Homo sapiens: one gene and its partner. The protein of the gene in region 2 purifies or fractionates together with the protein of the main gene of each other region. This does not show direct contact. Each region holds a gene or a part of one and is shown on either strand. Other genes may lie near its edges.

Region 1 (3,868 bases), about 110 Mb from region 2:
GATATTGTTTTCCTGATTACAACATTAATAACCTGTGATTCCTTTTCCAGAGACCACTACCGTCAACATTTTACTCTACTTTGCCATGTAAAATTAATACTACTTCCTTATGTGATAGAATAGTTTTAACCTTTCAAATTTCTATTAAAATATCAGATAGTATAATAGCATCATTATTAATTTAGTAGTTTAAAGAAAGTAGACAGTTAAGATACATATTTAATATAAAATGTTTAATTGGTATGGAAGGAAGAATATTAAAGTCAGAAAATTTGGGTTCTAATAATATTGGCTTCTTCATTGGTCTCAGCCTCTTCTTCATCATCTGCAAAATGAGGGCAACAAACTACACATTTCCTGAGAGCCCATCAAATTCTACAACTATTGACTACATTTATTCTATATTTAGAATGCCAATTTAAGAATTTTGATTAGCTATGGACAAATCTTAATAAAAAAATATTTTATCCTCAGATCACCAAAACTTTGGCGGCAGAACTTGGAGCTCTTTTTTCATGAGAGCAAATCTCTATTTCGCTAACCTCAATTTAAAGTAATCAATAATACCAACTTCAAAGTAAATTAAACTGAACTGTAAATCAATTATTTCTATGAACATACATATTGGTTATATGTGGATACACACACTATCACTGCTATAGTTATATATGATACACATATTATCATTTGATATAAGGATCCTCATCTTCCCAACTCAGAGATATCAAGATTTCATTTGTAGAATATCACACTGTAGTATTTGGGAGCTTAAAGAAAACCTGGGTCTTGGATCACCTACCACCAGGGATGGGTAAATGCAGGGGGGGAAGAAAAGCAGGAAAAAAAAAAAAAAGAAAACTTTGAGATTATGATAGCTATTCTCACCACCAGTGTACACAGTAATTACATGGGACACCAGTTAAAAATAGGTATTCTGGGCCAGGCGCGGTGGCTCACACCTGTAATCCCAGGATTTTGGGAGGCCGAGGCGGGTGGATCACGAGGTCAGGAGAGTGAGACCATCCTGGCTAACACGGTGAAACCCCGTCTCTACTAAAAATACAAAAAATTAGCCAGGCGTCGTGGCGGGAGGCGGAGCTTGCAGCGAGCCAAGATCGTGCCACTGCACTCCAGCCTGGGTGACAAAGTGAGTGAGACTCCATCTCAAAAAATAAAAAAATACAAATAAAAGATACTCTGACTCAATAGACAGGGGTGGAGTAAAGGAATTTATACTTTGAATGAAAGCCCTAGGTGATCCAAAGAGAGCCAAAGAAGTGCTCAAAAACCACTGATCCAATTCCTTCATTTTACAAAACAAAATCTGGACAACAAGAGGCTGTAACATGTTCAATGTTTTACAGGAGTATGTAACTTAAGTCCATAAATTAAATTTTCAATGAATGGTTAAACTTTTTTTTCAGCTTCTCTTTTTTATTTTTTTTGCTCTAGAAGATAACTAATTGATGCAATGGTGACTGTGTTAGTAAAACCTATGAGACACTCATGTCAAGTTATTTGTGGGTAAACTGTCTTTTACTGAAGAAATTTAGCAGTATATGCCAGGCACTGTTTTAACCCTGCCCTGTGAAATTTACATTCTATGTAGAGAGACAAACAATAACCAAGAAATATAATTAAATTGTCAACTGTTAGAGGAAAAGAATGCAGCAGGACAAGGAGATCAGGAGTGCCATTCAGAAAGTGCAGGTTGCAGTTGGAGTAAGGCAATTGCAATTTTAAATAGTCAAAGTAGGCCTCAATGAAAAGGGGCCTTGAAGGAGGGTAGCTGCAGTGATAGCTGAAGAAAGAGCTTTCCAAGAACTGGTTAAGGCAAAGGCAATCAGTCAGGAATATGCCTGGCCCATTCAAGTAAGAACAAGGAGACCAGTGAGGATGGAAAAGAAAAAACAAGCAGGATAATACAGGTTGAGTATCCCTTATCTGAAATCGTTGGGACCAGAAATGTTTCAGACTTGAAATTGTTTCCGCTTTTTAAATATTTGTATATACATAATGAGACTGGGGATAGGACCAAAGGCTAAACATGAAATTCACTTATGTTTCATATACACCTATACATATAGCCTGAAGGTAATTTTATATAATATTCTTAAAATTTTGTGCATGAAACAAAATTTGTATACATTGAACCATTAGAAAGCAAAGGTGTCACTATCTCATGTCAGTAATGAAAAAGCTTTGAAGCATTCTGGTTTTCACATTTTTGAATTCGGAATGCTCCACCTGTTTCAGGAGATGAAGTCAGAGAGGTCAAACAAGGAAAGGAAGTGAGCACATCACATAGGAATTTATAGGCAATTATGACTTTGGCTTTTACTGAATGAAATGGAAAGCTATTACAGTGTTTTCAGCAGAGGAGTGACATGATCTGATATGTTTTAAAAAGCTCACTCTGAATCATTAGTCATTAGAGAAATGCAAATCATAACCAGGATGATGCCACTTCACAACCACAAGGATGACTATTATCAGTAAGACAGGACAATAACAAAATATTGGCAAGGATTAGAGAAATTAGAAGCCTCAGATATTGCTGGTGAGAATATAAATGGTATGGCCACTTTGGAAAACAGTCTGGCAGTTCCTCAAGAGGCTAAACATAGTGTTACCATATGACCAGCAATTCCACTCCCAGGTGTAGACCCAGGAGAAATTAAAACAAACGTCCACACAAAAACCTGTACACAAATGTTCGCAGAAGCATTATTTCCAATAACCGAAAAGCAAAAACAACCTAAGTGTCTAACAACTGATAAATGGACAAATAAAACATGGTATTTCCATATGACAGATTATTTGGCAATAAAAGTAATGAAGTACTTATACATGCTACAACATGGATAAACCATGAAAACATTATGCCAAGTGAAAGAAATCATTTACAAAAGGCCACATATTGTACAAAACCACTTATATGAAATGTCCAGAATAGAAAATAGATTAGGCTGGCCATAGTGGCTCACGCTTGCAATACCAGCACTTTGGGGAGGCCGAGGTGGACAGATCACTTGAGGCCAGGAGTTCAAGACCTGCCTGGCCAACAGAGTGAAACCCAGTCTCCACTAAAAATACAAAAAACTAGATAGGTGTGGTGGTGCATGCCTGCAATCCCAGCCACCCAAGAGGCTGAGGTACAAGAATCACTTGAACACAGGAGCTGGAGGTTGCAGTGAGCAGAGATCATGCCACTGCACTCCAGCCTGGGCAACAGAGCAAGACTCCGTTTCAAAAGAAAACAAAAAAAGAAAAAGAAAGTAATAGATTAGTGGCTGCCAGTGTCCGGCAGCTGTGAGGAGGAATGGGGAAGGACTGCAAGTGGGTACAGGGTTTTGGTTTCATGGGAGAAAAAAAAGGTTCTAAATTTAGAGTGTGGTAATGGTTGGTTGCACAACTCTGTAAATGTATGAAAATACATTGAATTGTACAATTTAAGTGGGTGATGGCGTATAAAAAACGTCTTGATAAAACGAAAAAAAAAAGGATCACTCTAGTTGGAAAAAGAGAACAACTCTTTCAAGAAGTTTTGCTGAAAGAGAGTAAAACAATGAAGTATAGTCTATGGGGGAAGTTTGGGTCAAGAGATGATTTTAAGATAGAATAGGCTGGGCATGGTGGCTCACACCTGTAATCCCAGCACTTTGGGAGGCCGAGGCAGGCGGATCACGAGGTCAAGAGATTGAGACCGTCCTGGCCAACCTGGTGAAACCCCGTCTCTACCAAAATACAAAAAATTAGCCGGGCGTGGTGGTACATGCCTGTAGTCCCAGCTACTCAGGAGGCTGAGGCAGGGGAATCACTTGAACCCAGGAGGTAAGAGATTGCAGTGAGCCGAGATCGCGCTACT
Region 2 (3,820 bases):
GAAGTATCCCAGCTTGGTGAACACCTTGTTTATTTTTAAATTTTTTAGAGACAGGGTCTCACTGTGTTGCCCAGGCTGGTCTTGAACTCCTGAGCTCAAGCCACCATTCTGCCTTGGGATTACAGGTGTGAGCCACCATGCTGGGCCCAGTGAAAATCTTGTTAAACTCTCCTAGCCTTCCTTCCTTGAAGACTGGTTTGATTCTGGTGCTGGCGTATGGGCCTGGGATTCAGTTCCTTTTTTGGCCAGCCTAGACGTTTATTCTGTGCCTGAGCAGATGCGTTAAGCTTAGAAGCAGACATCACGGCCACCTCAGGCCCATGCCATTGTGGGCTGTATCCCCTAAAGTGCCCCATTAAAATCTTGGCCTCCTTGTGCTCTTTTCAAATAAGAGACCCCTGTTCCATAATATGGCCCAAACTTCTAGGACGGGGGCACTCAAGGATGGGGAATTTTCCTCACTGACAGGGTTTGCTATGTCTGTGGGTAAACCCAACAGAGGATAAGGCTGGAACATCTGGGTTTGGGGCTTACCTGGTTCTTTTCAGTGTCATAGAGTGATAGTGGAAGGTTTAAAAAAAAGATAGGGAGGATGTATCCACCAGGGCTTTGGGCATTTTCTTGATGAACTTATTCCTTTGGCTTCAGTGAGAATATCTATCATTTACTTAAGAGAAGGCAATGAGCTACGTGGTTTAAAAAACAAATAAAAGGCTGAGTGCAGTGGCTTATGCCTGTAATCCCAGCAGTTTGGGAGGCTGAGGCGGACAGATCACTTGAGCCCAGGAGTTGGAGACCAGCCTGGGCAACATGGTGAAACCCTGTGTCTACAAAAAATATAAAAATTAGTGAGCCTGGTGGTGCACACTTGTAGTCCTAGCTACTTGAGAGGTTGAGATGGGAGGATAGCTTGAGCCCAAGAGCTTGAGGCTGCACTGAACAGTGATTATGCCACTGCACTCCAGCCTAGGTGACAGAGTGAGAGCCTGTCTCAAAAACAAAAACATTCCTTGTTGCCTCTCTTTGTGCTTTTCTTTTTTTTTTTTTTTTTTTTTGAGGCAGAGTCTCACTCTGTCACCCAGGCTGGATGGAGTGCAGTGGCGCGATCTCGGCTCACTGCAAGCTCCGCCTTCCAGGTTCACGCTATTCTCCCGCCTCAGCCTCCCGAGTAGCTGGGACTACAGGCACCCGCCACCACGCCCGGCTAATTTTTTGTATTTTTAGTAGAGACGGGGTTTCACCGTGTTAGCCAGGATGGTCTCAATCTCCCGACCTCATGATCTGCCCGCCTCGGCCTCCCAAAGTGCTGGGATTACAGGCGTGAGCCACCGCGCCCGGCCTCTTTTTATGCTTTTCAAGGCTTTTCTTACCCAGGCCTTGCTCCCCTTGCCCTCAGACTACCATTTTCACTCCCTTTGAGCTGGTTATCCAGGGGAAATGGATCCAGGCTGCTATGAAGATTATCCACCAGGGAACCCCGACACCCTCCTCACCCAGCCTCTCTCCTGAAGAGATCATGAGCTGAGGGCATGCGAGGAAAACTCCCAGCTGTTTCTGCCCTTAAGTTAGAGGACAGAGGAAATAGTTTCTATACTTAAGAAGATAGAAATATTTTCATTCCAAAGCTATAAGAATTATGAGCAGACGAAGCTATGGCTCTGGCGGATGGGCCATTTTGGGAAACAAGATACAAGCAAGGGCATAATTTACAAACAAAGTGTGGGTATATTTGGCAGGTTTGAGGCAAGCAGAAAGGAGGGTTTGGGTACTCTATAAAAAAAGATCTGAAATTCAAACATCTGATAAGGCCACAATGAAGAGATTTCCAGCAGTGGGTGTTGCAGGATGCTGGCACCCAAATCGCCGCAGGCTTGCAAAGGTGCTATGCAAGGTGAGGAGGCAGGTGAGGCAGGCAGTGCCTCTCACAGGTCCATGTCTAGGCCTCCTGAGGATGTCTTCAGCGGCACTGAGTCAAATCCATCAGGAGTCCTCTGAAAGAGAGATGGTGACAGGAGCTGGCTGCTGCACAGGGGCAAGTTTGGGGACAAAGGAGAGAAATGGAAAATAGGTGACAGAAGGAACCCTTATGAAATTCCTGTTTCAGTGGCTTTGTGGAAACACAGAAATGAGATACCCTCTATTCTGCTTGCTCCCTTCAGGGTCAGTTGGAGAACAATAAAAATCTTTTTCTTTTAGGCGGGGTGTGGTGGCTCATGCCTGTAATCCCAGCACTTGGGAGGCCAAGGCAGGTGGATCACCTGAGGTTAGGAGTTCGAGACCAGCCTGACCAACATGGTGAGACCCTGTCTCTACCGAAAATACAAAAATTAGCCAGGCATGGTGGCAGGCGCCTATAATCGCAACTACCTGGGAGGCTGAGGAAGGAGAATCGCTTGAACCCGGGAACAGAGGTTGCAGTAAGCCAAGATCATGCCACTGCACTCCAGCCTGGGCAACAAGAGCGAAACTCTGTCTCAAAAAAAAAAAAATTTTTTTCTTTTAAAAAAATGTTTTTGGCCAGGCACAGTGGCTCACACCTGTGATCCCAGCACTTTGGGAGGCCAAAGCAGGCAGATCACCTGAGGTCAGGAGTTCAAGACCAGCCTGGCCAACATGGTGAAACCCTGTCTCTACTAAAAATACAAAAAAAAAAAATTAGCCAGGTGTGATGGCAAGCACCTGTAATCCCAGCATCTAGGGAGGCTAAGGCAGGAGAACCACTTGAACCTGGGAGGTGGAGGTTGCAGTGAGCTGAGATCATGCCACTGCACTCCAGCCTGGGAGACAGAGCAACACTCCGTCTCAATAAATAAATAAATAAATACATGTTTTTTAGAGACAGGGTCTCGCTCTGTTGCCCAGGCTGGAGTGCAATGGCACAATCATAGTTCAGTGCAGCCTCCAACTCCTGGGCTCAAGTGATCCTCCCACCTCAGCCTCCCAAGTAGCTGAGACTACTGGCATGCTCCACAACACCCAGCTGATTGTTTTTTATTTTGTAGAGATGGGGTCTTCCTATGTTGTCTAGGCTGATCTTGAACTCCCAGCCTCAAGAGATCCTCCAGCCTGGGCCTCCCAAAGTGCTGGGATTACAGGCATGAGCCAAAAATCTTAAAAATCCCCTGCTTTGCACCTTTGCTGAATTCTAGCAGTCCCAGATAGACTCAAGAGTCCCAGGGTGAACTGTTCTCCCATTCATTTAAAAAAAAAGAAATCGCAGTCTAAGGAGGCCAAGGGAGTCTCCCTAGCAGGTCAGCACAAAGGAAACAAGACTTAGCAATCTAAACACCCAAGCACGGTCCTTTCTTCACCACCTCCCAATACCCTCCTCCCTCTTTCCGCCCTCCCCACCCACTCCTATTGGGATGAACTGGTTCAGAGCAGTAGTCAGGTATGGGCACTGGCAGAGTTGTGCTGCAGAGGACTATAGCCCTGGAGGACCTGCTTGTATGCTGTCTGCTGGCCCCACACCCAGTGACAGTATTGTCTGTATTGCATTTATAAGCTTCATACTCACCCACCCACACAAAGCCAGCCCTCCCAGCTCAGAATTGCTCAGTGGGGAACAGCTGAGACTGAACTATGATTCAGCTCCCAAAGGACTGGACCCAGACACCTGGAAGACAGCACCCCCCACTGGTCAAAGGAGAGCCTGACTTCTATCAGAAGTTGATCCCAGAGATCACCTTTTCCCTTTTCAGTGAAAATAAAAAAAGGAGTAGGGGATGATTCTTACAACATAGATGGTTCAGTACTCCTTCTGGAAGTGAAAAGGCCCAAACAGTTCACTAACTGGAGTGCATGTTGAGAGAGAAGGAGC

The links.
Region 1: the proteins of ELAPOR1 (region 2) and TAF1A purify together in Homo sapiens (affinity purification with mass spectrometry; one large-scale study listed by BioGRID and IntAct). This does not show direct contact.

What each region holds. Positions count from the first base shown.
Region 1 is NC_000001.11:222,579,934-222,583,801, forward strand, and holds part of TAF1A (TATA box-binding protein-associated factor RNA polymerase I subunit A), read right to left. Parts: intron 1-3,868. UniProt on the Homo sapiens protein: Component of the transcription factor SL1/TIF-IB complex, which is involved in the assembly of the PIC (pre-initiation complex) during RNA polymerase I-dependent transcription.
Region 2 is NC_000001.11:109,201,115-109,204,934, reverse strand, and holds part of ELAPOR1 (endosome/lysosome-associated apoptosis and autophagy regulator 1), read right to left. Parts: intron 3,617-3,820; coding exon of another isoform or gene 3,581-3,616; exon of another isoform or gene 3,397-3,580; intron 2,023-3,396; coding exon of another isoform or gene 1,992-2,022; coding exon 1,923-1,991; 3' UTR 1-1,922. UniProt on the Homo sapiens protein: May protect cells from cell death by inducing cytosolic vacuolization and up-regulating the autophagy pathway. May play a role in apoptosis and cell proliferation through its interaction with HSPA5.